Homo sapiens: one gene and its partner. The protein of the gene in region 2 interacts with the protein of the main gene of each other region in a pairwise test. Each region holds a gene or a part of one and is shown on either strand. Other genes may lie near its edges.

Region 1 (3,823 bases), on a different chromosome or scaffold from region 2:
AGCATTTGCCTTAACCTATTTTGCTTCAAGCAATAAAGTTAAATTTGGTAGACTATAATAATAATACTAAATAATATTCTACCTTTATGGACAGAAAAAATTTAAATTCCTCTTTTTAAACTGGAAGTTTCACCTCCCAATTCTTAATCTCAAATTAGGTTATTTCATTTTTCTTAATTCCACTGGAAAGATGCAATATAGAAAAGATATGATAGGCTGGGTGTGGTGGCTCACACCTGTAATCCCAGCACTTTGGGATGCTGAGGCAGGCATGTCTCTTGAGCCCAGGAGTTCAAGACCAGCTTGGGCAACATACTGACCCCCATCTCCAAAAAGAAGAGATACAACAGAAAAAGGTCACAAGGGAAGCCACAAGATTGACTAATTACTCTTTTTTTTTTTCCTGAGACAGAGTCTCACTCTATCGCCCAGGCTGGAGTGCAGTGGCGCCATCTCGGCTCACTGCAACCTCCGCCTCCTGGGTTCAAGCAATTCTCCTTTCTCAGCCTCCCAAGTAGCTGGGATTACAGGTGCCCACCACCACGTCTGGCTAATTTTTTGTGTGTTTTTAGTAGAGATGGGGTTTCACCATGTTGGCCAGATTGGTCTTGAACTCCTGACCTCAAGTGATCTGCCCACCTCGGCCTCCCAAAGTGCCAGGATTACAGGCGTGAGCCACTGCGCCCAGCCAACTAATTACATTATTAAATGCCTAGGATTCTTTGAGTATTCTTTACCATTGATAATCAAAATACAACACCTATTATTATCTGGTGTTGTATAATAATAAACCTATTATATTATTTTTAACATTTAAATTAAAATACACTAAGCTGCTATACACTGAACGGTGAAGCATAAGAGAGCAGAAATAGGGGGGAAGATCAGCATTTATTTCTATGTAAGTCTGAGCCAATGAATCAGCAATTTGTCTTACCTTTAAAAGTTCTAGATTTCCCTCCTTTGCCATGGGCACGCCCTTTTTTACTGGATAACCCATTCGAACAGGAAGAGGTACTGCAGAGGGTTTAAATGGTGCTGCAACTGGGTAAACACTAGGCCAGTCCTGGTCAACAGCCATTTTCTCTGTCCTAGGAGGTAGTGCCTAAGAAATATAAAATCGTTTAGTATTTTAAATATAAACACATTCTTTAATTCTTAAAGAATTTTAATTTTAAAGCAAAAAGCTACAATTACAAGAAATAGAAGCAAAATTGCAACATATGTAAAATCTGACCTCCCACAATGCTGCTGCTGTCCAAATTTTAAAAACAACACTAAATCTACCTAAATATCTCTGCACTGTTTCTTCAAACCCTCTGGCAAGGATCCCCTTTAATATCACATTTTCTTCACTAAAAATTTCTTTAACTGGACTTTTAGCAAAATTTTTACATTTTGCTTATGAAAGGGTGAATTAACAATACATTTTGAAATAATTTTTCGAACTTCTTTGATGGAAGTCAGTAGTACATGAGGGGGCGTTAAGTACTTGGAAGTAAAAAGAAAAGGAAAAAATAATTAGGGTTAAACTGATTGAATAAATATATAATGAAAAATTATATGTCTCCTAGGCCCAGAGAAAAACTAGTACTTGATAGCTTAGTCAATCACATTAACATTTATTTTTAATGGCATCAAATACGAGGGGATGGCCCACATACAAAAGTAGGGTTTATAGTGGCAAAATTCAGCCATGCCCCGCCTACGCAATATCAAAACCAGTGTAGTCAATATCCTAGAAGCAGGTAATAGTCCTGAGGAAATGACTGCTCTTAATGATTGTAATTTGATACCATTTAACTTCCAACTAATGTGTCTTTGTTCTGACACTATTGCTCACCAACTGACCTTATCGTTTAGATTCCTCCATAGAAGTAAGGAATCCAAATGTCCACAGGGTGAGACTCAACTAGTTAGAATACGGCCAGGTGCCGTGGCTCATGCCTGTAATCCCAGCACTTTGGGAGGCCAGGTGCAGTAGCTCACGCCTGTAATCCCAGCACTGAGGCGGGTGGATCACCTGAGGTCAGGAATTCAAGACCAGCCTGACCAACATGGTGAAAACCTCTCTCTACTAAAAACACAAAAAATTAGCCAGGCATGGAGGTGTGTGCCTGTAGTCCCAGCTACTTGGGAGGCTGAGGCAGGAGAACCACTTGAACCCGGGAGGCAGAGGTACCAGTGAGCCAAGACTGCACCACTGCACTCCAGCTGGGCAACAAGTGGGAAACTCTATCTCAAATAAATAATAATAAATAAATAAACAAACTAGTTATATTAATGCATAAGTCCCAGGCTGCAGGACTTAAGATAGCATTAGAAATTGTTCCATATTCTGGTTTATACACCTGTTTCCTGGGAGTTCCTCAGTAAGTCAACCTCTCAAAGATCATCTATTCTCTGGGTACTGACAAAAAACAAAGACTAACCTCTGCCAGGGCTATGGCAATCACCCAGTAAACATGACCTTGTGAAGTCTTCTCTGGTAACACCCTTCTGCCTTATAATGAATATCTGCCTCATTTTAGAACTCCAGAAACCATTAAGATAGTAGAGTATACGAACTTTTTACCTTTCTTCTTGGTGGCCTTTCATTTCCGGGTGTTCTTTCCGCTGTACGTAAAAGATAACACAGTAGTTAAAGAGAATTTTATCATGTCAAGTTAGTTGTTCAACATCAATCATGATCCCATTATTCTAACACAATTTAAGGTATTTAGTAACATAACAATGAAACAATCTTTTTTTTTTTTTTTTTGGTAAGCTCAGGGACCAAAATCATCTTAATGAAGACTAAAAACTGGAAACAGAGGGAGTCTCGGCGTATCACCCAGATTGGATTGCAGTGGTGTGATCTCGGCTCACTGCAACCTCTACCTCCGGAGTTCAAGTGATTCTCCTGCCTCAGCCTCCCAAGTAGCTGCGACTACCAGTACACCCCACCACACCTGGCTAATTTTTGTATTTTTAGTAGAGATAGAGTTTCACCATGTTGGCCAGGCTGGTCTCAAACTGCTGACCTGAAGTGATCCGCCTGCCTCAGTCTCCCAAAGTGCGGTGGGCAGGTGTGAGCCACTGTGCCTAGCCCCAGTAAGGAAAATTCTACAGTTATTTGAATTGCAGATACAGTGAATTCATTATCTAAAAAATGACTCTTACAGAGTCTGTCAAGTAAGACAACTTTTTAACAAATAATTTCAATAAACAGTGATAAATATTATGAACACATATAGCAGGGAACGAAACCTAGTCAATTAGTTTGTATGACGGTGAATTTTTTCTTTTTTCTCTTTCTTTCTTTTTTTTTTTTTTTTTTTGAGACAAGGTCATCTCACTCTCGCCCAGGCTGGATTGCAGTGGTGCAATCTCGGCTTACTGCAGCCTCGAACTACCAGGTTCAAGCCAATCCTTCTACCTCAGCACCCCAAGTAGCTAGGACTAAAGACATGAGCACACCCGGCTAATTCTTGTAGAGACGGTGTTTCGCCATGTTGCCAGGCTGGTCTCAAGCTCTTGAGCTCCAGCGATCCACCCACCTCAGCCTCCCAAAGTGCTGGGATTACAGGGGTGAGTCACTGTGCCCAGCCATGATAGTTAACTTTGTGTCAATTTGACTGGATTGAGGAATACATAGACATGTGGTAAAGCATTATTTCTGGGCATGTCTGTGGGGATGTTTCCAGGAGAGACAGGCATTTGAGTCAGTGGACTGAGTGAGGAATACCTGCTCTCAATGTGGGTGGGCATCATCCAATCAGCTGAGGGCACAGAAAGAACAAAAAGGCAGATGAAAGAAGAATATATTCTCTCTCTCTCTCTT
Region 2 (3,823 bases):
GTCTTCTTGCTGTTCCCTGAACACACCAAACTTATTCCTGCCTCAGGGTCTTTGCACTTGCTGCTTTCTCTATTTGGAACACCCATCCCCAAGATCTTTGCAAGCTGCACCCCCAAATCTCATCTAGATCTCTTGCCACATCTTCCGCAATAACTTTCTGACTACTCTATCCAAAATGCCCCCCGACTGCAACCACTCACTATGCTCTCTATCCCCTGCCCTGTTTTATTTTTCTTTATAGTACTTATTACTATAAATATTACCAGTCATTTACTTAACAAATATCTTCAGAGCACCTAATATGACTCTAAAGCAGAGATTCTCAACTGGGGATATCTAGCAATGTCTAGAGACATTTTTAATTGTTATAACTTAGCAGGAAGCTATTGGCATCCAGTGGGTAGAGGCCAAGGATGCTGCTAAAAATCCTACAAGAAAAAAGATAGCCCCCACAACAAAGAATTGTCTTGCACACAATGTCAGTAGTGCAGAGGTTGAAAAATCCTGCTCTAAAGCAATATATAAAACTCTATGCTCTCATGGAGCTTATATTCTAGTGTAAGTATTATGTTACATATTTAGTTGGTTACTTTCTCTCTCCTTTCGATACTTTATTAGCAACACTAGACAGAACCTGGAACACAGCATGAGTTCAACAAATACTTGTTGCATGAATGAATAAAAAAAGTTTTTTCTACCCACATCACTTAAGGAGTTAGAAAGTGACAGAATGCATTACTCCTTATTAAAATATTCATCATTCCCCTACCCACATATTAAACCAGTATGCTTACAACTCAGAGAATGAAGAAAATTCATCTTTCAGTACCACATCCTGGACCTGTACTTTCGCTCTTCTTGGCAATGATGACATCTAGAAGAAACAGAAAATAAAATCAGCAACACTTGAATATTCTTATCACTTTATTTGGCTACAAGTAATGGGTCATTCAAAACTAACATTTCATAGGAAAAAAACAAAAACAATGATGTTTATTCACAAGCCCAAACATCAGTTTCCTCTGCTATGTAGCTGCCAATTAAAAGAGTAGCTGGCTGGGCACCATGGCTCATGCCTGTAATCCCAGCACTTTGGGAGGCCAAGGAGGGCGGATCACCTGAAGTCAGGAGTTCGAGACCAGCCTGGCCAACATGGTGAAACTCAGTCTCTACTAAAAATAGAAAAATTAGCCAGGTGTGGTCGTGGGCACCTGAAATCCCAGCTACTGGGGAGGCTGAGGCAGAAGAATCACTTGAACCCAGGAGGTGGAGGTTGCAGAGAGCTGAGATTGCATAATTGCACTCCAGCCTGGGCAACAGAGTGAGACTCGGTCTCAAAAAAAAAAAAAAAAGAAAAAAAAAGAGTAGCTAACAGCCTTCCAATGGTTTAAAACTCTTAAGAGTATGGGCCATCTTTTAAAAAATATAAACTCCTACAGGGTGACACCTGTAGGAAAACTGTGTGCTTCATTTTTTAAGAATTGTGTGCTTAAGTATTCTGTGTTATTTTATGGTAATAATATCAGGCAGCCCCTTACAAAGTCCTTTATTAAACTATATCTCAAAGACAGAAACATTTTTTTCCTATTCTTTTTTTTTTTTTTTTTTTGAGACAGAGTTTCGCTCTTGCTGTCCAAGCTGGAGTGCAATGGCACGATATTGGCTCACCACAACCTCCGCCTCCTGGGTTCAAGCGATTCTCCTGCCTCAGCCTCCCTAGTAGCTGGGATTACAGGCATGCGCCAACACACCCGGCTAATTTTGTATTTTTTAGTAGAGACAGCATTTCTCCATGTTGGTCAGGCTGGTCTTGAACTCCCGACCTCAGGTGATCCGCCCACCTCGGCCTCCCAAAGTGCTGGGATTACAGGCATGAGTCACTGTGCCCAGCCTATTCTATATATTCTTAATGAATAAAGTAGAGGTCTCTCTACAAAGTTGGCAATGAAATAAATGATGCTGATTGACTGAGTAAGCAGCCAGGTTATTCTTAAAACAAGATAATCATTCCCTTATAATAAAAGTTCATTAAACTTAAATAAAATGATTAATCACTATGTGACTAAAAACTATTTACCAAATTCGAAGGCCAAGCTGTAAAAAAAAGTTAAGACAAATAACCAGAGACATCACATAATACGGGAAAGTAAATAAAATTACTTTAGCTGTTAAGATTAATTAGCTGTTAAAATTAATTAATAAAGGACTTTATAAGTGGCTGCCTGATATTATTACCATAAAACCATCAAACTATAAGGACTACACTAGGCTCTGACATGTTTGGAACCCTTTAAACAAGTTTCTGACCCAGTCATATGTTATAATGCCTCTGGTTCTAACATCCGCTTAGAAGAGGAAATAATCTCTCATGGAAATACTAAAGGGGTTGTCACAAAAGGGAATATGTTCTCCCAGCAGCTATAGCTCAACTCAGTCCAGTAAGTACACAATGATTGGGCAAAATAGTGCTCAGAGGGAACCAAAAGAACAACAGGAAAGCAGTCTGCAGGAAGTAGACAGGATAATCTTCCATCTTTCCCTTCACTCTCTTTTTGGCATATTAGGTTATAAAGATCATCCTTTCTCAAATTAGTATTTTTTAGACATTGATCATGAAAGAACAGGTAATTGTGATTTTTATATTATGTGTATCTTACCACAACAAAATAAGAATGGAGGAAGTTAGTGTATGACAAGGGTGGCATTTAAAATCAGGGCAGGGTAAAAATGGATTATTCAATAAATGGTATTGAGACAACTAGCTATTCCTCTAGAAGAAAAAAAGGAGTTTAATTCCTACCTCCACACCATTAACAAAAATTTATTCCCCAATAACTAATAGTTTAAAATGTACAAATTAAAACTATAAAAGAACTAAGAAATAAAGGTGATTCTTTTCACACTATTGAGGGGAGATGGGGAAATGGAGGTTTTCCTAAATATGACTCCTCAAAATTCCAAAACCAAAAAGACTAACAAATTGCAACACATAAAAATTAAAATCCCAAGCCAGTAGTGGGAGCATATGAGAACCAAACCAATTTACCCTGCAGTATTCTAAAAAAAAAAAATTCATATGAAGCAGTAGCTGATACCTTTGGAATTAAAGGTGAAACGGGTTAGGGCTGTGTATAAACTGACAAAGGAATATCTCTAAGTGTCCTACCTCACTTCATGCTATTAGGCAACTGCCCCAGGAAAAAGACTGTAAGTTTATTCTCTGGAGAAGGTATTAATGAAACAGTCTAGACTGTGGGCATGGGAACCATACAGACTGAATGCTAAAGGCAGAGAACCCTAGTCTTCCGCCACTAAATTCCTAAAATACTGCCCTCTAGGGAGGAGAATGGGAAGGCTTTTCTCTGGAGAATCTAACCAGTCCAAGAGTAAAAACTTGAAGGTGCTAAGCTTCCCATCAAACAACCCACCCAGATCACCTTACAATCACTCCTACCACCACATTCTACAATATGCCTGAATTCAGAACATTCCCACACAGACTACCATATACTAATTCTATCTCCACACTTCAGCCTTAACAGAAATGTGTTTAAAATAGGGACAGGCAAACCCTTGGCAGGCTTATGTTTTTGCTTAACCATTATCCTTAAAGAAGGCTCCCCTAAATCAAATATTTCCAACTGCCTCTTTATAAGGCACCCCGAAAGCAATATACCATGGAAAGATGAGTGAGTTGTAATATTTCTTTTCACAAATGTTAAAAATATCAATGTAAAAGGAAAGGTGGGAAAGCAGAATCTGCATGAACACACAAGCCAATTTCAAGCAGATCAGATTTAGAAAGAATATATACAAAAGCTGA

The links.
Region 1: the proteins of SRBD1 (region 2) and MRPS35 interact in a two-hybrid assay, tested with the Homo sapiens proteins (one large-scale study listed by BioGRID).

The regions. Positions count from the first base shown.
Region 1 is NC_000012.12:27,713,573-27,717,395, reverse strand, and holds part of MRPS35 (small ribosomal subunit protein mS35 isoform 1 precursor), read right to left. Parts: intron 2,617-3,823; coding exon 2,576-2,616; intron 1,106-2,575; coding exon 938-1,105; intron 1-937.
Region 2 is NC_000002.12:45,604,568-45,608,390, forward strand, and holds part of SRBD1 (S1 RNA-binding domain-containing protein 1), read right to left. Parts: intron 875-3,823; coding exon 795-874; intron 1-794.